Linked DNA regions of Homo sapiens: region 1 is linked to region 2. Evidence: fine-mapped expression QTL. A gene starts in region 2. The other region holds a variant in brackets. All regions are shown on one strand. Distances are from middle to middle.

Evidence for each region.
Region 1: its variant is fine-mapped to the expression of ESM1 in whole blood (TOPMed, PIP above 0.99). The same link has a PIP of 0.9 or more in blood mononuclear cells.

Annotation. Positions count from the first base shown.
Region 1 is chr5:55,014,700-55,026,276 of GRCh38, forward strand. GZMK (granzyme K) reads left to right here and starts at 9,557. Exons shown (of 5, transcript NM_002104.3): 1 at 9,557-9,687; 2 at 9,961-10,108. The coding sequence starts at 9,624. It overlaps LOC102467081 (a long non-coding RNA gene), which reads right to left and starts at 9,470. Exons shown (of 3, transcript NR_104662.1): 1 at 9,230-9,470; 2 at 7,929-8,013; 3 at 6,600-6,823. The variant G/A (reference allele first, on the strand shown) is at 6,584.
Region 2 is chr5:54,980,742-54,992,318 of GRCh38, forward strand. ESM1 (endothelial cell specific molecule 1) reads right to left here and starts at 4,852. Exons shown (of 3, transcript NM_007036.5): 1 at 4,476-4,852; 2 at 1,256-1,405. The coding sequence starts at 4,776.

The DNA.
Region 1 (11,577 bases), 34 kb after region 2:
AAGTCCTTAGAGATCTACAAAGAGACTTAGACTCCCACACAATAATAATGAGAGGCTTTAACACCCCACTATCAACATTAAACAGATCAACAAGACAGAAAGTTAACAAGGATATCCAGGAATTGAACTCAGCTCTGCACTAAGCGGACCTAACAGACATCTACAGAACTCTCCACCCCAAATCAACAGAATATACATTTTTCTCAACACCACATTGCTCTTATTCCAAAATTGACCACATAGTTGGAAGTAAAGCATGCCTCAACAAATGTAAAAGAACAGAAATTATAACAAACTGTCTTTCAGACCACAGTGCAACCAAACTAGAACTCAGGATTAAGAAACTCACTCAAAACCAAACAACTACATGGAAACTGAACAACCTGCTCCTGAATGACTACTGGGTAAATAACGAAATGAAGGCAGAAATAAAGATGTTCTTTCAAACCAATGAGAACGAAGACACAACATATCAGAATCTCTGGGACACATTTAAATCAGTTTGTAGAGGGAAATTTATAGCACTAAATGCCCACAAGAGAAAGCAGGAAAGATCTAAAATTGACACCCTAGCATCACAATTAAAAGAACTAGAGAAGCAAGAGCAAACACGTTCAGAAGCTAGCAGAAGGCAAGAAATAACTAAGATCAGAGAAGAACTGAAGGAGATAGAAACACAAAAAACCCTTCAAGAAATCAATGAATCTAGGAGCTGGTTTTTTGAAAAGATCAACAAAATTGATAGACCACTAGCAAGACTTATAAAGAAGAAAATAGAGAAGAATCAAATAGATGCAATAAAAAATGATAAAGGGGATATCACCACCGATCCCACAGGAATACAAACTTCCATCAGAGACTACTATAAACACCTCTATGCAAATAAACTATAAAATCTAGAAGAAATGGATAAATTCCTGGACACATACACCCTCACAAGACTAAATCAGGAAGAAGTTGAATCCTTGAATAGACCAATAACAAGTTCAGAAATTGAGGCAATAATTAATAGCTTACCAATCAAAAAAAGTTCAGGACCAGACGGATTCACAGCCAAATTCTACCAGAGGTACAAGGAGGAGCTGGTACCATTCCTTCTGAAACTATTCCAATCAATAGAAAAAGAGGGAATCCTCCCTAACTCATGTTATGAGGCCAGCATCATCCTGATATCAAAGCCTGGCAGAGACACAACAAAAAAACAATTTTAGACCAATATCTCTGATGAACATCAATGCAAAAATCCTCAATAAAATACTGACAAACCAACTCCAGCAGCACATCAAAAAGCTTACCCACCATGATTAAGTGGGCTTCATCCCTGGGATGCAAGGCTGGTTCAACATACAAAAATCAATAAACATAATCCAGCATATAAACAGAACCAAAGACAAAAACCACATGATTATCTCTATAGATGCAGAAAAGGTCTTTGACAAAATTCAACAGCCATTCATGCTAAAAACTCTCAATAAATTACGTATTCATGGGACGTATCTCAAAATAATAAGAGCTATTTATGACAAACCCACAGCCAATATCTTACTGAATGGACAAAAACTGGAAGAATTCCCTTTGAAAACTGGCACAAGACAGGGATGCCCTCTCTCACCACTCCTATTCAACATAGTGTTGGAAGTTCTGCCCAGGGCAATCAGGTAGGAGAAAGAAATAAAGGGTATTCAATTAGGAAAAGAGGAAGTCAAATTGTCTCTGTTTGCAGATGACGTGATTACATATTTAGAAAACCCCATTGTCTCAGCCCAAAATCTCCTTAAGCTAATGAGCAACGTTAGCAAAGTCTCAGGATACAAAATCAATGTGCAAAAGTCACAAGCGTTCCTATACACCAATAACAGACAAATAGAGAGTCAAATCATGAGTGAACTCCCATTCACAATTGCTTCAAAGAGAATAAAATATCTAGGAATCCAACTCACAACAGATGTGAAGGACCTCTTCAAGGAGAACTACAAACCACTGCTCAATGAAATAAAAGAGGATACAAACAAATGGAAGAACATTCCATGCTCATGGATAGGAAGAATCAATATTGTGAAAATGGCCATACTGCCCAAGGTAATTTATAGATTCAATGCCATCCCCATCAAGCTACCAATGACTTTCTTCACAGAATTGGAAAAAACTACTTTAAAGTTCATATGGAACCAAAAAAGAGCCTGCATTGCCAAGACGGTCCTAAGCCAAAAAAAAAAAGCTGGAGGCATCACGCTACCTGACTTCAAACTATACTACAAGGCTACAGTAACCAAAACAGCATGGTACTGGTACCAAAACAGAGATAAAGACTAATGGGACAGAACAGAGGCCTCAGAAATAATACGACACATCTACAACCATCTGATCTTTGATGAATGTGACAAAAACAAGAAATGGGAAAGGATTCCCTGTTTAATAAATGGTGCTGGGAAAACTGGCTAGTCATATGTAGAAAGCTGAAACTGGATCCCTTCCTTACACCTTATACAAAAATTAATTCAAGATGGATTAAAGACTTAAATGTTAGACCTAAAACCATGAAAACTCTAGAAGAAAACCTAGGCAATACCATTCAGGACATAGGCATGGGCAAGGACTTCATGACTAAAACACCAAAAGCAATGGCATCAAAAGCCAAAATTGACAAATGGGATTTAATTAAACTAAAGAGCTGCACAGCAAAAGAAACTACCATCAGAGTGAACAGGCAACCTACAGAATGGGAGAAAATTTTTGCAACCTACTCATCTGACAAAGGGCTAATATTCAGAATCTACAATGAACTCAAACAAATTTACAAGAAAAAAAAACCCCATCAAAAAGTGGGCAAAGGATATGAACAGACACTTCTCAAAAGAAGACATTTATGCAGCCAAAAGACACATGAAAAAATGCTTATCATCACTGGCCATCAGAGAAATGCAAATCAAAACCACAATGAGATATCATCTCACACCAGTTAGAATGGCGATCATTAGAAAGTCAGGAAACAACAGGTGCTGGAGAGGATGTGGAGAAATAGGAACACTTTTGCACTGTTGGTGGGACTGTAAACTAGTTCAACCATTGTGGAAGACAGTGTGGCGATTCCCCAAGGATCTAAAATTAGAGATACCATTTGACCCAGCCATCCCATTACTGCGTATATACACAAAGGATTATAAATCATGCTGCTATAAAGACACATGCACACGTATGTTTATTGCGGCACTATTCACAATAGCAAAGACTTGGAACCAGCCCAAATGTCCATCAATGATAGACCGGATTAAGAAAATGTGGCACATATACACCATGGAATACTATGCAGCCATAAAAAAAGGATGAGTTCAGGTCATTTGTAGGGACATGGATGAAGCTGGAAACCATCATTCTCAGCAAACTATTGCAAGGACAGAAAACCAAACACCGCATATTCTCACTCATAGGTGGGAATTGAACAATGAGAACACTTGGACACAGGAAGGGGAACATCACACACAGGGGCCTGTTGTGCGGTGGGGGGAGGGGGAAGGGAAAGCATTAGGAGATATACCTAATGTAAATGACGAGTTAATGGGTGCAGCACACCAACATGGCTCATGTATACATATGTAACAAACCTGCATGTTGTGCACATGTACCCTAGAACTTAAAGTATAATAAAAAAAATTACAAAAAAAAGAATATAGTTTGGGATTATCTAGTGTAACTAGCAATTCAAATATATGATTGTATTTTCTATAATATTTACATCAAAGCCTTAATTTTAAACTTATTTGCACATATTTCTGTAACATAACTAATGCACTGAATATTCCCATTCATATTGTCCTTATGTGGTATTATGGTTAACAACTTAAGTCCTTCATATTTCCTACTGGAGTATATATAGTCTGTGAACGATCTATGCATCTGGAATTTTTGTAATTCTCAATGTGATTTGCTTATACCTAGTAGAATAAGTTGAATGTGGTATAAATTTATAAACTAATTCATTCATTAATTAAAAATAATAAAGAAGATACTTGGTAACTTCTCAAAAAAAAATTTAGAAGATTATGCTTTTGTTGATAATCTCTTCTCAGCCTGCAGCCTTTTTATCAAATACTTGCTATAGCAGTTGTGTTCTTAGCATATCAAACTTATGTTTATTAAGCCTTGCAAAAATGTAAAATGTGCTTCATTATTTATCCTGTAATAGTCATCAAAATTATTTCTAAATATCATTTATATACCAGGTCCCTAGTGAGGTAGTTTAACTAAAATACTGTTTTATTTGTCTTCATATTGATTTGCTCACATTGAGCCCACTTATTGTTAAATTTATTTATAAGGACCCTTCATATATTAAAGATATTGTCTTTGGGGGGAAATGCTTTCAATGTAAGTGACAAGCATTTTGCCATATGTCTTTGGATATTGCCTATGGTATTTTCTACCTTACAAAAGTCTTCTATGCTCTAACTTATTGATAGTTTCCTTTATGCCTTCCTCTCTTAAACATTATTTTTAATTTACCATCTCATTTAGTGTATATAATTATTTCATTTCCTAATAGAAAAAAGGGTGGGAGGGGAAGGTTGTATGTGTGTGTGTGTATGTGTGTGTGTTGTTTGGTCACTTTTTGGAAAAAGTATATCATATCTAGATTTCTACTTGAATTGATTCTCAATGGAAAATTAGTGAATACTGAATCAATCGATAACACTTGCTGTGTTCCAGCTTGACCATAGCAATTACTGTGTTTCCCTCATTAATGAATGTGGTCGTTCATTTTGAAATTCCTACTACTTTGCCTGCTGTGACTTCGTTTATTTTGTAAAATCATCCTGACTAGTTAAACAATTTAATTGCTTTCAGCATGATGAGATTATTTCTTGTAATGTATCTGTTTCTATTGTAAAACAATGATAACATATTTGGCTTTGGGGCACAGTACTGTATCACAGTAGTGTATCTGAGATGTTCAAATATAAATGGAAGTGTTCCATTATAAGGCCTCCCATCCTCAATTGATCATTTTTCCTTCTTTATTCAACAGTATTTATTTTCTTCCCTCCCTTCCTGCCTCCACCTTTCCTCTGGTCTTTATTACCTGGTCCTTCTCTGGTATTTTTCCCTTAACTTGGCCTACATATTTACCCGTTTTCTCCCTATAATACTGGTAGGCTCATATAGTCCTCACCTTCCTCTGTGCAAGGCAAGGGTACCTACGAGCCTGGAGCTGAAAACCTTCCTTTGGCAGTCATTACTGTTGAAAGGATTTCCACATGTGCAAATCTTTCAGGACAAGTAATTGCGGACAATGTGAGTGATCTGTCTTGAGTCCAGCGACATCACAGGGACCACCCCATGTGGCACTTTCCTCATCCCACCCATAACATTTGAACTTAGTTAAAATGAACATCAAAGCCTGCTCTAAAGAAGAAAAGAAAAAGGAGTCATAAAAGGGCAGTGTAAGGCCTGGAGACAAAGTTGAGATAGGGACAGTGTATGACCAGGCAGCCAGCACCAGCAGTGCTGGGACATCCCTATTTGCCAAGTCCTCAAGGTATTTTCCTGATTACTCCATATGTGAGGATCCTGCACTTAAGGCAATTCTCATCCATTCCAGTCACTTCATAGCTGACGTGGAGAGGAGTAAAGGAAAAGGAAGTTGAAGTACTATTGTGTGACTTAACTCAATAATGATGGTTTAGAAAACGTATCTTCATATTTATGAAAGGAAGATTTAACATGCAAAATATATTCTGATTTAAAGTTGAGATAGAGGAAGACAAAACAAATTTCCCTCAATCTCACCTTTGCCACCACCATCATTCCACCAAGAAGAGGCCCTAGAGCAGCCCTCTGAAGTATTTACATTTAAGTTGCTTAGGAAAAGGCAGTATTCCAGGTGCCCCAACCCTTATTACAGCCCCAGCTCTGAGTTGAGGGGTACTTTGCTTTCCTTGCCAACTGCCCTTAAGCTCATTCATTTTAAGGACCTAGTGGGAGGGATGGCTGTAATCTGAGGTGAGATTTACATTTTCTTGAGAACTTCGGACTTAATATCATTATATAGCACCCCAATATCCTTCCCAAGCCCAATTTTCAAAGCTGCCATAGTTTCACTATGGGTGTTAGCAGATACATTTACCAAATTAGCTAAGCCATTACTGGACAGAAGTCAAGGCCTGAAGGGTGGTGGGCTACAAGGGAGGGATCCAGTGAAATTCTGCCAAATCCTGATGTCAAGTGCCAAGGGCTGGGGATGGTTGGATAGCTTGGGAAAACTTGATATTGAGAACATTTTTCAAAGGAATGTAAAAGGGAATAAATGGGAAGAGCTTGAAACAAATCTGCTTTGCACTTATGTCTACAGAGCAGTGTTTCTCAGACTACCTGTGGGAAAGACCAATGTGTTTGGAGTTTTAGTTTGTTAATTTGTTTGTTTTTAGTTTCAGCCCATTGTGAACTGATACGTTTATACAACACAAATAAATAGAAAAAAGTAATTAAATAAAAAACAAAGGCATACAAAATACACACCCAATTTTTATTAGATTGGACAAATTTTATTTCATTAATAAAATAAATTAATACAGTGCCATGTTAAGTC[G/A]CTGTTACAGTTTCTAAACTCTGGCTCTCAATTTCTGTCCCCATCTTGCTCCAAATCGGTAACAAAGAGGTTCGGAGACTGGCACAGGTCTGCGGGCCATGCTTTGATTGGCATGGCTCTAGGGGGTGTGGCTTATAAATCTGACAGAGCAGGTGTCTGGGCTGTTGAAGAAAGGCAGTCCAAGGGATAGAACCACACGAGGCCTTTGGAGCAGTGGCACAGCTGTTCTATAAGGGTCTCCTGAAACACAGGAGAAGCAGAAACAAAACATCTCTAAGAGCAGCAAGAAAGACAGCTAAACACAGCAAAGAAGAGCCACAAGGCTATGACGTGTGAAGCCAGCCCTCCTCTGAGCACAGCCTTGCACTTGCTCAGTCCGGTACAGTTGCTGTAAAGCCATCCAAAGCAAACATGGCCCTCCCTGCAGCAGACTCAACAGAACAAAAACCAACACCCAGAAATAAATTAGATCGCCGAGCTCATCATGTTACACAGCCCACTGTTCTCAAATCCAGAATCGTGAATATAATAACAAATGATACTATTAACTGGCAAATCGGTCTAAAGCCAAAACCAAATAACTCATTACTATTAACCAACATGATTCTCAGAATTTTCTAGGTCAGCTACAAGAAAGAGTTATGAGACTCTTCCCAACTGAACTAAATCTCACCCATGTCTAATTACACGCAGTGTGTATGGCTAAATCCTTTTTCTCTTCTGCACAGCTAGCTTGTGTCTCAGAGCCCCTAAACCCCCAGGGACTTCTCAAAGGAGGCAGGCATGTAGCCAGGTTGAAAGGAACATAGAGCCGGGAGCCAGCACATAGGAGCTTAAGGGCCACCTGCTAGCTCGGTAATCTCAAGCAAGTCCCTGAATTTCAGTTTATTTATCCATAAAACAAGACTAATGACAACCACTTCCCTGGAAATACAGCTAAAAACGTTCAGCAATTTGTACAACGCTATGTGGACATTAATCCTTACTACTCAGAAATAAGCAGCTGAGAGATGTTTGTAACCATTCCCATTTCCCCCGCCACACACACACACACACACACACACAAAGCTTCGTCCTTTACAATTTATTTCTTCCTTAGAGTTTGGATCACTTCTACCTGTCACACACCATCTTCCTTACGATCCCAGCATCACTGGGATGTAGCAGGGAACTGACGCCATCCTGTCTGCCTTCCAATGTGGAACAATGGCACACAGTAGAGCATCCAAGGTACATCAACAGTGACAAAGATGACTTGAAAATTCACAGGGACATTTGAGTGGGAGTAATAAGTTTGGTTTATTAAGCTTGTGGCTTTTCTTAATCTGGCTCCTCCTTATCTCACCTTCTGCTCTGACAGGAAGTCACTGCTCTGCGTTGGTTTTGTTCATTCTGTTTAACATGTAGAAAGCTTTACTGTTGCCACACACCTGTACAAGGAAAGCAGGTTTTTTATAAAATTCTGTGTTCTGGGAGGGTACTCATTCACATACAACTTAACATACAGGGAGGTCAGGCAGGTGATTTGGTCTAGGTCATAAGCTGTGTTGCCTTGGGCAAATTACTTAGCCTCTTGGAACTTATTTCTTCCATTGTAACATAAGTTGTCCTGCTTTCCTCAAAGACATAGACATGAAACCATAAATGATCATATAAAAAGAATTTTGGAAATAAGGTATTTTACTTATATATTATTAAGTTATAATGAATAATACATAATTATAGTATTATTTTTTATTATTCCTACTCTTTGTGCTAGAAAACAATTTGAAAGGAGTCTCTTGCAATCTGCCGAGCATAATAGCTCTGGATTTTAATTCTCCTTTCTAAAATGAATGGAAGATAAAATGCATACCTCTTAAAAGAAAGATCTGTTGATTTAATGCAAATTTTGATCAGTGTTACTAGGAAGTGATTGGCATTCTGATGCGTGATCTGTTTGTATTCATTTTATATTTGCACTGCTGATCAGTGTCTGGCACAAACAGAATCTTGTAGAATCTTGAGTCTAATACCTTTTGTATTGAAGGCCTGGCAATGCATTGTCATCTGTTCCTGGGAAGAATTACAAAATGCAGTCCTTTATTTTTAAAAGACATTATTATTAAGTCCCTGGAAAAACACATGGCCATTTTCAATTAAAAATGAGTAAAAGAGAGACTCTGAATCAAAAATAGTTGCCAATGTTCACCTTTAACAACATTATGAAATCTCACAAAAATGTAACTAAAATTTAACCAAATTTGGGCAAACTTAGAGAAACGACATGAGTAGGGATGTTTGCTGCAAAACATATGGTTTTCTCTGGTTGGTGCTCAGGCTTTAGCTAAGCCACATTGTGAAGTAACCATAATCTGTGCAAGGTCCATGTCTCTCTTCATCATAAATCTATGTCCAAATGAAAAAGAGAGAAGAATGAAATATGATAGGCACCATTTTGTGCCAGGAAAAATAGTAAGTATTGCTTGAGAGCAATGGACATCTTTGAACTCTGTCTGCAACTTCATTACATTCTTATGGCATGGATATTTTTCATTTATAAATATTATATACACATATAGTATAAATTTTCTTTATAGCATAAGTACTCTGATACAGGTATTAGAGATGGTATCTCCAGATATGAGTTCTTTATGGCATACATACCTCTCCCAAAAAAGTGCTAAAAGCAATTAGCCGGATGTGGTGGTGGGCGCCTGTAGTCCCAGCTACTCGGGAGGCTGAGGCAGGAGAATGGCGTGAACCCAGGAGGCAGAGCTTGCAGTGAGCCGAGATCGCGCCACTGCACTCCAGCCTGGGCGACAGAGAGAGACTCCGTCTCAAAACAAAACAAAACAAAAAAGTGCTAAAAGCACAGACCTGAAAGTCCCCAAACTGATACATAACGTTTACACCTAGGTGTGAAAAAAAATCTTACCCCTAGAGCACCTGTGGTGAGAAAGTCAAAACTTACAAGAACAAAACTCAGTCTTCAGAATCTTCTTCCTTCATCACAGGATCAACACATTTCATCTGGGCTTCTTAAATCTAAATCTTTAAAATGACTAAGTTTTCTTCCTTTTCTCTGTTTTTCCTAATAGTTGGGGCTTATATGACTCATGTGTGTAAGTATCTCCTATATCTACATGTAAACATTAAATGAATTTCTACTGACTATATTGTTATATTATAGATGAAAATTATTTTCACAATCATTCCTATCTTTCTGAACTGTAATGTATTATACAAATTTTTCATCAGTAAAATTATTGTAGCTTTTAGGTAGGGTTATTGTTGTTTTTTAAGCTTTGAAAATAATATAGTGACTGTCATTGGAAGAATTACATGAAACAGTAGTTTAGATCTTTTGTGTGAAACCTTTTGGTCTACTTTTGTAGGTTTCAATATGGAAATTATTGGAGGGAAAGAAGTGTCACCTCATTCCAGGCCATTTATGGCCTCCATCCAGTATGGCGGACATCACGTTTGTGGAGGTGTTCTGATTGATCCACAGTGGGTGCTGACAGCAGCCCACTGCCAATATCGGTGAGTCCTCCACACTTTTCCAGACATGTGTTTTTTCTGAAAGTTATTATAGGTACAAGAGAAGCTTACCTCTCCTGAATGAGAATTTGATCTACTGTTAGCTTCTGTGGTTACTGACCAACTGGTGGCGTTTATTTACCTTCTTCCACATCCACGCTTTCTGTCTTGGGTTTTCCTTTTCAGAGAGAACTGAGCTGCTTTTCCCAGGCAAGACATTAGACAAATTCAAGTCCTCTGTATAATGCAGGGAACACAGCAACAGTAATACTTGAAGCAGCAGTACTCTTGACCTTGTTAGATCACACTGCTCAAAAGGAAATCAGACAACCTGAGCTTGCTCTGTGCTCTGAGCTTCCCCATTTTACAAAGGGGTAATAATCATATCATACCTGCTTTGTGGGTTTTGAGAATTAAATAGTATCTGTTTAAGTATTTTAGCATGCTTGGCACATTTAGTAAGCACAAAAAAATTGCAGCTATTATCATTAGTATTATACGCATGAGAAGCCTACTTTGCCACTCCTAACAGTAGCTACCTAACAGTAGCTACTCACCACTTACAACTTTCCTAGGTGGAAAAAAACAAGTTATTGATGACTTCTAGAAAGAGAAAGATAATGAGAGAGTTATTTTCTAGGATACTTAGAATGAAAGCTTTTCTGAAGACAGAGTAAAACCTTCCAAAGTCCATTTCAGCCTAGGATTCTCTTACTTCAGCTAATAAAGCACAAAACCCCTCTTGGGATGCTGCAACCATCACAAAAGGAAATGCCAGTAGAAAACTAATTTGGTATTTGTTGTTTTGTTTGTTTGCTTGGGTTTTTGGTTTTGTTTTTTGTTTGTATATATGTTTCCTTATGTTTCTTACCTAATAAGCTGAAATGGAGCCTTCTCCTTTTCTTTCACTTAAAGATCTCTCTTAGCTGTAATGGTTTGCTCTCCAGGCATTGTCTATATCTAAACAGAACAATTGAATTGATTTGCTTTTCTATGCTTTGGGGGTTTTGTCTGATTACCCCATTTAAATGGAACTGTTTGATCACAAATTGGAAGTTTTGAAGCCTGCAAACTGGGAGATCTTCTGCTATCTCTAAATAGCAAGCCACTGATTTCCAATTTAATATGGTTACTTCATTTACACAGGGTTCTTGCCCTCATAGAAATCACACTCTCATCCCCATCACTTCTCTCTTCTCCAGGGCATTTGCCCCCTCGAGATCAGAGAGACAGAGTGGGGAACTGTCAGCGAATGTTCATTTGATGCAAAATATGCACATCTTCAAATATGCTCATAATACACATTCAAATGGTCTATAACCTCCCCAGACACAGAGCTTGACTTCTAAATGTTCAACAAACTTTGGATGGAAAGAAAGAAATACACTGAAAGATCTTTCTTTCTTTCTTTCTTTCTTTGGCTAGGCCTGAAACATGGTGTATGAAAAAGTGCTTCACTAGCCATAAAGTGT
Region 2 (11,577 bases):
AAACTAATAATTCACTTAAAAGCACGATATTTCCGCTTCATTTTAATGTGTTTAGTTGACCCATACATAAGAAGGAGGTAAAATTAGAAAACAAGCACCTTTGCCAAATAGTTTATATTTTATTAACTTGAAATGCAAAAGACCAAAAGCAAAAACTAAATAAAATGGACTTGAATTGTTATTTATAGTTGTGGTGGGAAAAAGTATATCATTTGTTGATACTAGCCATCTCTGTGACTATATGTTGGGCTTATTATTTATTTATTTTTTATAATTTTAAATACAGTTTTTAATTGACAAATAATAATTGTATACATTTAGGGTACAATATGATACTTTGATATATATCTCCACTGTGGAATGATGAACTCAAACTAAGTAGCATATCCATCACCTCATATACTTATTTTTTGTGATGGGAACATTTAAAATTTATTATTTTACCAATTTTGAAATATATAAGAATTATTAACTACAATCGCCATTCTGTGCAATGGAGGCCTAAGCTTTAGTGATGTATGTTGCTTTAAATGAGCTACTTTCAGTTTAATGGAACTCTCCTGTACTGGCCAGCTATTCAACAAAATAAACAAATATGTACATAGCACCATCTCATAGGTTGTGTATTCCTCACATTCTAACACCTGTATAAGAAATACACACGGACTAACAAGCAGCACGTATTACTACAGTTTCATTCATTTCCAAAATTTCAATCACATACTATTTCTTATCCTCTCCAAAATCCATAAAAACACACACTTGGAATTATTACACTTAAATGCTTTCATTTGGTTAAAAAAAAGAAACGTTCTATATTTTCTATCTTGACTCTTAAAGCTTATCCAATAAATTCCTCACAGTACTTTTTCTATGTGAAGTTGGGAGATAAATAGTTTTGTCTAGTAAATATATAAAACAGATCACTGAAGAATTTAAAGAACTTTGTGTATCTCAGTTGGTTATTTTTTATTACAGATTTTTGGTAATCAATCATATTTATCCTCCTATAAATCATATTTAAACCAGGTAAACTTTATGAGAAATTATATGTAAACCTCAAAATTATTGATGGGCTCTTTTTAGAAAACAGCAACAGCAACCAAACTCAGCTACCACCCACCGTTCCCCTGAGTAAAGCAAAGGAAATAAAATCATTCCAATCCACATCTTATTCTACTCACAGATATTTTCTAAGTTATTCACACTGAAATGAGACTATTCTTCCAATGCTTATACCAGAATCAGTGCTTACCCGTGAGAGAAACAAATCTGTTGGAAGACTTGGTTACTGAATATTGGAAGAAGGGGAATTTCAGGCATTTTCCCGTCCCCCTGTCACAGATGCCTGACTGGCAGTTGCAGGTCTCTCTGCAATCCATCCCGAAGGTGCCGTAGGGACAGTCTGGGGACAAAGGAAAGGTTGGAGAGGACGCTGCTTGTTGTAAATACGTCTCCATCCTAACAGCCCTGGGTGCATAGCCTTGCGATTTGAACCAACCTCATGAACCTTGACTGTAAAGTAAAATCCAATTCTCCAAACCCAGGATTTGAAAGTTGAAACTTTGAGTCATAAATATGAAATCACACATTAAGAACAGATAATGGATGCCTCGGGCTTAGTGTTGTGATGTAAAGTTAAGTTGAAGACAGCTACACACAGCCAGTCTCCTTGGACCAGTCTTCATTCTGGTGATGTTCTGCTTAGATACCAATAAATTCTCACAGATGACCTCTGTAACAGCTCAGCAAAGGTGGGAAATTGAACAGACATATATGCATCAGCTCCTCAAAGAGTTTTTAAAATGTGATGCTATCTTTGAATCTACTGTATTCACAGATAATTTACTATTTTAAGTGTATAGGAAAGGGCTTCAAACTAACCAGGGAGAGAGCTATCATCCTAGCTCACCATGAAGCAATCAATCTTCCATCTGCTCCAACCCTTATCAAGTTCCTTATTTGTCGAAACGGCATGTCATACAACTTGCCTGACTCCCTCAGTAGTTAAGAGGGCTCCCTAGTAAAATCCTCTGCAAGGCTAACATGCAAGATGCTAAATGAGCAAGAAAGCTCAGGGCTTATACACCCTGAGGGTTTGTACACCTACCAAGAACTAGAAGCTTTTAGACCTCCAGTGCTTACACTTATGCCAAAACATCCTACATTGAAATAAAGAGGACAAAGTCGTTTATTTAAAATGCATAAAATTATTTAAAATGCTGTTTTTAGGATAAACAGCATCTCAGTAGACTAACCAACCTTTAAAAGCCAGCAGAATAGATATAGAATATTCTCTTGTTGTGAAAATACCTTGTAAATGTACAATCACAGGTGGGTAAAGAACAAATTGTGAGCCATCTGAGTCTCTAGCAGTCTAATACTCCACTAACTGACCAAGTAGATCATCAATGAGCTATCTTTTTTTAAAGAGATCTATGAGTGCTCTTTTCAATATGGTTCAGATCACAGAGGAACCTGGTTTTGAACACTGTTCTCTTTGCTGGGAAGAAGAGATCTTAAAAAGGGATCCTGCAAAGGCCTGTTCCAGAAAAGCACACAGGATTAGGATTTGACTGTGCCTGCAGCGATATTGAAAACTAAAACTTTAGCCAAATTCCCAGAGATACTTCTAGTGTATCCCCTGATGTACTGAACAGTGCTGGGCAGATAGTAAGTGTTCATTAAATATGTGTTGGCTGCTGATTGTTAATCTGGGCAAGATGTTCACAGACATCTGAATATTTAGAAGACATTTGGATACGCAGCTGAAGTTTACAGTTTTCACGTGGATGTTCTTTTAAAAAGCTGAAGAAGGGAGATGATTGCCAAATGTATTATCTCTATCTCGAGTTGCTAAGGCTCACAAAGTCTCCTATTTCCAGCAGAGAGAAAAATGCTTAAAACTAGATTCATCAGCAACCTGAAGAAAGCCAAAAGAAGCAATCTTAAAGATCTTTTTAGTATCTTGATCATTCAGTAGAATACTACAGTGCTAAAGACTCCAGATGCCACACAGCTTGTTTCTTTGCCCATATGTAATGTACATTTACAATCACATGTACAAAGGCATATTATGCCAAGAGAAAAAGCAATCCACTGCATATACATGCTATATCATAAGTATGATTGTGTTAACCACTTCCTCCCTAATTTCCTTATGTGAAGTACTGTTTTCTTGGTCAATAAGCCCCATAATTTACAAAATATACAGATCCTATTCAGTTGAAAGAAACATGCATATGTGTTCACCAAACAAAATATTTTCTCAATATTCTATTTCTTATTGTATATAAACAAAAATAAACTAAGCAAAAAATAAAACTCTCCTAATACTTTAAGAATTTGTTTTTTTAATTTTGTATGTCTTGCAAATTAAAAGATGATTAATTTATACATTATATGTCTAAGAAGTAGGAGAATTAATGAGATTAGCACAATACTGGATAAATATTATTCATAAAAAATGTATTAAATACATAAAACATAATAATTATTTAGAAATTTCTCAGTCCTTTTTATAATTTTGAAAGCTTCCTGGTATTACACAACTGATGGATGGGGTTATAGCATGTGTTGCTTCTTAATAATAGCTCTTCATAATAAGATCATGAGATATCTATACGTAGAGTATTTTTAAATCATCATTCTTTTTATTCTAAACATTTTTAAAATGTTAAATATTTTAAACTAGTTACTATGTTTAAAATAAATTCTACAAATGCTTAACTACATTATTTAGCTAAAATTTCAACCGACGAAGTTTTTCTTTAAGTGTACAAGTGGTCAACCTCATTCTTTACAGACTTCCAGTTTTTATTTTTCTCTATTGTTATTTTTCCTTGTCTTAACACCATCTGCTATTTTTCCAGATGACCAAAACCTTTATAAAGTCAGATGAGGTTTGTTTTATGCTTCAGGGGACCCTCTTTGAAGAGTGAGTTATTTTGTTAGATGACTTAAGCTCACTCTATTCCATAAAGTGCATTTGTGTTTATCAGAAATATTTGATCTTGAGAGTGGCCCTCCATCCTGTGGACCCTTTCAAGATCAAAGAATCACTAAATCTGGGGGCTAGAAACCATTCCAAGAGGTTATCTAGTGCAGACCTTTGTAATCGCTGCCTCGCAGAGGAGAGAGCACCTAAGCCATCCTTAACAGATTACCTGTCAAGTTTCTAAAGTTTTCCAGAAAAGGAGCCAACACAATCTTCCATTGCAGCTTTCTTTTTGCGATCTCCTAAGGCAACGAGTAAAATGCCACACTTCTTTCTGTGCCTTCCTGCACACTGGTTTCAGTTGCTACTTGGAGCTATCCTTCAGTCTCTACCCATGACAATACCTGTGTGGTGCCTTGTCAAGAATCCACCTGCCTTTTCCCTCTTACTCTTGAGGAGCAAAGCCACCTCACCTCCCAAGCTGGCTAAAAGCTCTCAGCATGCCCCGGGAGGGGAGAGGTAAGGGGTCACTCTTTACCTTTGCAGATACCAAACTCTTCACCAAAAGGATCCTCCCCATTAGAAGGCTGACACCTCAGCCCCGGGCCACACTTCATGCCATCCATGCCTGAGACTGTGCGGTAGCAAGTTTCTCCCCGCCCTGCAGCGCACACTCGGCAGCAGCCACAGTCGTCGAGCACTGTCCTCTTGCAGCGCGGGCTGCTTTTGCACTCACTGCTGTCACAGTGTTGAGGGCAGTCCACCGCATAATTATTGCTCCAGGCGGCCACCAGGTGTGCAGGCACGAGGAGCGTGGTCAGCAGCAAGACGCTCTTCATGTTTCCCAGCTGCCTCCGGCTCGGCTCTCCAGTCGTGGTCTTTGCTGGTGGGAAGCAGCCGTCCAAACTGGTAGCTGAGCCTCTGCCTACACGTTTATGAGTTTTATACACTGGGTTGCCCGCATGCTTTCCCGTCATCAATTTCCTCAACCCAGCAGCAGCGCTGTCCTCCTGCCAGGCTCTCTTGTTTTGGTTTATGAAATCCAGGATGAAGGCTGGATTAACACGCTGCTGCCATCCAGGAATTGAAAAGCCCAAGCTGATGTCATCTGTTATGTTTAGATGGTTGTTTTGCATGAGGACTGAAAAACTCACTCACATCCGTCTCAAGGGCTCAAGGACGTCTGTGAAGGAGGGATAAAGAAGGTTGCACACCCTCCTTCAGGACGGGAATTGTTCTGACCCTGGCATATCACTTGAGGTGTAGCTTTGTCTCAGAGCCTCTGTAGTCAGGAGGAAAATGATATCAACATGAATCATCAGGACCGAAGAAGCTTCTTCAAAAAAAATAATAAACATTTGGTATTTCCCCTCAACAAATAGCTATGAGATCATTTGAAAGAAGAAAGGGTTATATTGTGTCTTTTCAATACTTAGAAGAAAGAAAATATTTTGATAGGGCTATTTTTTAAGACCCTCTCTTCCTTCCTCTCACCCCTCTCCTCAAATGTTATTTCTAAAGCAATTCATGTTACATATATCTAAGCCTATTGTGGATATAGCTGTGCTTCCAGTACAATGTGGAACTGCCTCTGAGAATTTCTTTTAAAATCAATACAAAAAGCCACAAGAGAGGTAAGATCCTTTCGGCACTGCTTCTGGGTTACTCAATTCTGGAAAAACTTATCAGTTGGACTTCTGATCCAAAACTTCCTCAGGGGAAGGCTCATCCATCACTAAGTCTGCTTGTCCAATGACGGAGTCCACCCAGAGCCCTTCCCCTCACCTCCTGGCATCTATCAGAGCCCTCACTAAAAACTGCCAAGCGCGGCAGCCAGCCCAAGGCAACAAGTGGCTCAGCAGGAAAATCAGAACACAGCCCCCAAGAAACAAGTCACAGGGAAGGGAAACATTACCCCTCAGGAAACAAGGTCTGCATGCTAAGAGGGTTACCGTGCCTAGGTCCCTCTGGGAAAACAGAGTAGCCCTCTTAAAATATCAACTGTGCCAGGGTCTTATTAAGTAAGGTTAAAGAGGAGAGAGGGGAGTTCTTACACCAACCACATGCCGAATTCCATGCCCCCACCTCACTTGTCAAAAGAGATATAGACTCACTGTCACTTAGTAAATAACAACCCAGTAAAGTGGGTAATTCTTGGTCTGTCACAAATGAGCTGTAAGAAATTCACAGGACTTCTCTTGGCCTCAGCTTCCTCTTTTGAGAATTGATGGTGTTAGGCTACCTGACCTCTAAAATTCTTGTTTCCCATAGAAGATGAGGCAGAGCGGGCATTGGATGTAACTTGAAGATCGGCTTTTGCAAATGCAATTTTAGGGGGACACAGGGAGTAAATTCAGAATACAGAGAATTGAGGCAGTAGGAAATGAAAGCAAGAGTTTTAGCTTTCAAATTTTCCAAATTTTTCATGACAATCCAATTTGAAATACTCTATCTCCCCAGAAGCACTTACTTAGCAGGTGGCACACTCTGATGTTTTCAGTAATGGGTAATATTTGTTGAGTTAATAGCTTAAACACTTTACATGCATTAACTCATTTGCACCTCATCACAATATTATGAAGTGGCTGCTATTATCATGCTTATTTTTTAAAAGAAGAAACTGAGTAAGAAAGAGGTTAATTTGCCTAAGGTCCCTATATTGAAGGGATGGATGTTAGTCTAATGTCAGAGCCACATATTCTATTGCCTATTACAATACATAATTGTGCTTTCATGGCCAATAGTTCCAATGGCCTAGGTCGCAATTTAGGCTGACCCTAGAAAATGTCCCTTGTTACTGAACACCACTTTCTGAGGAGTAGTTAACTGGAATAGTGGTTAATAATAATATCTAACCTTTACAGAGATCTGACTGTGTGCCAGATGCCATGCTAAGCAGTTTATGTAGATTACCACATTTAACTTTCAAAACAACCTCAAGAGCTAGGTGCTATTCTTATCCCCATCTTAGATATGAGAAAACTGAGGCCTAGAGAGGGTAAGTAACTTGTCCATCATCACACAGTTAGCAAATGGTGAAGCCAGGACTCCAGCCCTGAGACCAACAAGCTCTGGAGACTGGATTAAGGATTGTAAAATCAAATACATACAGGTGCCAAACAGGTGCCCAAGGTGGGTGACATGGTAAGCTATACTAGATGTAATACAGAAGGAATGGAGTGGATTTCGTCCTCCTGAATAGCACATAAAGACATGAAACTCTTCCACTATGGAAGATAAAGGGAAACCAAATTGATAATACCTTCAGTAAATGACAACTAAACAAATGTAAGTTGAGAGTACCAAATCCAAATAGTAAACCAAACTACAATGCACAGGTAAGTGCAGAAAATATGCCCAATAGAGTTCACCAGTGGTGGAACTATCTCAATACACAGTGCCTAACAACTCATTTTAGGGGAACCTTCAATCCCTCCAAGACCCAACAAAAACCATTTGTCCCAACACAATCCCTGTAAGATTTTTATCTAGTGATTTCTGTCTTCCCCAGAGCCTTGAGCCCAGATCAATGAATTCCATTAGGAAAGTTAGCAATGACCACAAAGGGTTAGGAAATGGGAGCACGAGCAACCAAGGAGCCAACTCTAAGCTGCATTAAAAAGCAATAAGATGATGGCAGAGCTGTTGATAGTGAGTGCATGAGGTCCACCCATTTCACTTGCTTTGTGCTGGGGACTGGAACATCTCTCATCTTGCTCTGCCTGTATATCAGTTGTCAAGTCAGAGTGAGAAAGGGCAAGAGGAATTGCACAAGATTTTCACAACTCCTAAAATGTAAGTTCAAACTAAGGTGGGTCAAACCATACCATCTGTGGATCCAAATGTTGCAGCATATGGTGTTTTGCAATGGGGGCAGAGAAATGATAAAACCAAATATCTATTTAACCCAGTATACCCTGTATACTTAAAATGCCACTTTGATTTTTTTCTTAAAGCTGGTATTGTGTTAGGAAAATAAGCTTTGGTAATGTGCATTAATATTTTGTGTTTATTTTGTACATTATGATTGCTTCTAACCAAATAACAAGGATTTTTTTCTGGATAGGTAAAAGTAGTCCAGTGGAAAGGCTCTGGGCAGATCCCAGACTCTCAGAAGGTGGTTTATGGTAAAGCGAATTATACCGTACTTACTGTGCCTTCCTAACAAACCAGCTCTACCAGAGAAGTCTGGTTTAAATTGAATTACAAAGGCAGACTTGAGGGCATAAAGTTTGGAGGAGCAAGTGGAGACATTTACATGCAGATTTTAGGTGATTTGGTTTTTAGGTTAGTTTTGGTTGTGGTTTTTGATACCATCTGAAAGTCTTCCTGCTTTGACACTAGCTGATAGCAATTTTGCATGTGCCTACTGCAAGGTCTAGCCCACAGCAGGAGCTTAATACTTAATAAACACATAAAAGGAACCAACTGTTTCCCAGAATCATCTTCAGATGATAGTAAGTTAAACGGGCATCAATGTGTTCCCTTTCTTTCTCTTTCCACCAGGAGAAGCAAAGTGAGGCCCAGATTCTAGGGCAGGCTAGGTTAAGCTGCAGAATGTGTTTACTTGTGGGAATGAGGTAGAGGTGTCAAGAAACAGCACATCCAATCCAAGAGACATCGAGGATTGGATGGAGCCTGAGCAAAGACTGTAGTCCCATTGCGGCAGTTCCTTCACAGCTAACCAAATTTGTCCTGTTGACCTTGGGCTTGGCAATATCACATCCACCCTGGAAAGTTCATGGGAGCCCCTCATAGCCAATAGAACTTGGTGAAATACTTCTGCCAAACTGGCTGGGATTCACGGCAGTCACAGGTCAGCTGTCAAAGCCCAGGGCCTGAGGAATCTTCCCAGAGCCTCCTGCCCTGAGTACAGTTTGCCTAGAAACAGCTTTACCACTGCCAAGATATGTGATCTTAGGCAAGTCACATGCCACATACCTTAGACCTCTCCTTTCTCCTCAGTACCTCAATAATAAGAGGGCCAAACAGGGCAACAGATATGAAACCATCGTGACTATTATTATCAAGCGTCTGATTTCTGAAGATTGGCTTCATTCTTTAAATGTGATCTTATGTCTTGGAGCAAATATTTTCCCAAAAGAAATCTCTCTAATTCTTTAAGTTTCTATTTTTAATAAAGACAATTTTAATAGCAAAGTGGAATTGAATGTACCAATATATGATTTACAGGCAATTTTCAAAAACTACACCTGCTTAGAAGAGCAAAGTGAAATGCATCTGCTTTAATTAGGCTTCTTGCCCATATGGGGGCTCTCTGATTTGTCTTGATGAGCAGGTCAACCTCGTAGGCAGCTGGGGTGCCATCACACAGAGCTCTGCAGGAGCCCTGAGTGTGAGGGTGTGTGAGTGACTGCAAGAAGATAAGGACAGGACACCCGCAGTGTCTGCTACAAACCCAGAATGTCTGGGCACCTCTCAGAGAACTTGGCACTATATCCAGATTTTTACTCCAATGGAGCCTCTGAGGAAGCAGCCACAGAGTCAGGTTGTTTTTTAACCCTGTTCAAATCTAGAAACTTCAACTTTGGGTTCACGCTGCTAGGAACTTTTTTAGAGCCAGGAAGTCTGGCTTGGAAACATGAAGAGCTCTTACTCACTGAGGTGCCTTCTTCTCCTCTTTGCCCCCAGTTCTGGCAGTTTCTAATGTGGGGCATCAAGGCAAGCTTTTCTTTCTAACAGCTAGCTCCTTCTCAAATCAGGTTCTGAATCTCGGACTCCATCAGCAAGAGATTCCTGTTTCACACAGCATCCCTCTAGCTGCAAATATGAACCCACATCCAGAAGCACCATGTGCCACCCTGACATGAGAAGCAATGTGAGTAGCAAAAGTAGCTCTGAACTCAGGACCAGAAGACGTAGGTTGGCATCCCAGTTTCATAATCAGCTATGGGTAAGGCACCAACCAGCCTCCTCATTAACATTAAGTCATTTTCTTTTAATAAAATATAAGGGAGAGAAATGCCTTCCCTTTCTCAAAGAGATGTTGAGATCAAAGGAGAATGTGGATTAAAAACATGATGCCAACTAAATTACTGTACAGGTGTAAAACATTATTACTTACTCTATAAGACAAATTAAACCATGAGAGAAAATAAACCAGTGGCTCTCTCAGGTCTCACGCATTCCTCCATTCCTCTCACATTCTGCAAGATGGTCTAGTTTCTCATTCACTTAATTCACAGCAAACCATGATGACTGAGTTTCAACATTCTTCCTTAGGAAAACTCCACCACCCCTCCTAGCAGCCTGCCTCGCCCCATCCAAGCATGGGATGACTAAACAGCTCACTAAACTTCTCTGCTAAAAGAGTTTTTAAAAGTGTCACCAGTTTCCTACATGACTAAAGAATTACTGTAGGCATTGGAAGTCATTTAGACACTAGAACTAGAGAACATAGATTTTTAAAGTCATATTAGAAGTTATTGCTAAGATATTTGGAATTTCCACTAGGAATTTTAGAAAGATAGAATTTCTGATTAACACAAGAATCATAGGAAATGATTCTGCTACTTTGCTTCTCTAATGACATGAAATTTCCTTTGCCTAACCTTAAACTGACCCCTTTTATAATGTAATAAAATGTTAATCAGGACCACCCTCACCAAACTCATCAGTTTGTCCAGTGATAAATGGCCTTAGCCGTTTATATGACATGTGAGTTGAATAAATGATTGAATGTTCAAAAAAAAGTTAACCACTAGATGAAGAGAAATAAGAAACATAACTTCCAAGCCCCTTATTTAGGACATTTTCAGGATTTGGCAGTTTCAGACTCACTCTAATTTGGCGTCAAAATATTTTGGCTTCTTTCTTCCTAGGCAGTTCCTGATGAAGCCTTTTTTTTTTTTTTTTTTTGGCTGCCACGGACTTCATGAAGTCTCCAAGCCTGTGATCTGAGAGCTTAGTGCAGCACAGCTGAGGGTGCCTGTGACGGGTCTCAGCAAGTGTGTCTCAAAACAATTCTCCACACCACCTGCATGAGAGTGTCCTGGGAAGTTTGTCAGAAATGCCACAGCCAGGGATTCCAATCTGATGGGTTGGGGTAGGTCTGGGAGTTAACATTCTTAACAAATAAGCCAGTTGATTCTGACAAACCCAAAAATTTGAGGAACCTCTAAACTAACAGTTTTTCCCAGTCACATCTCTTCAGGTTAGTGAATTAGTACTTAACGTTACTCTGAAGACTTCTGACAGAAAAAGTCTGTCTCTGAGGGATTGACCTAGGATTTTTATTTATATTACGCTCATGAATTTTTAGCTTATTTCACTAATACACATCTTCACATGTTAACATCAATGAAGATGAGATGTAATCATCATGATGTAATTGTCACTGACTACATGTGCACATTAAAATTTGCAGGATGGGTGCCAGTCTCTGGGAAGAGAATCTTAAAGACAATCGTGGAGTTCTCTTTTAAAAAATGTTGTATCATCAATGATTTTGATGACCCAGAAGACAATACTATGTGAAATAAACATGGATGGCATTTACATGTGATTTAGGAGGATCAGATACGAATGTGGAGACATTTTAGGAATATTTTAACCAATTTGTTGAGTTTATATTTTTCTTTCTTTTGAAGGTACAAAAGTTCTAAATTATAAAAATCTAT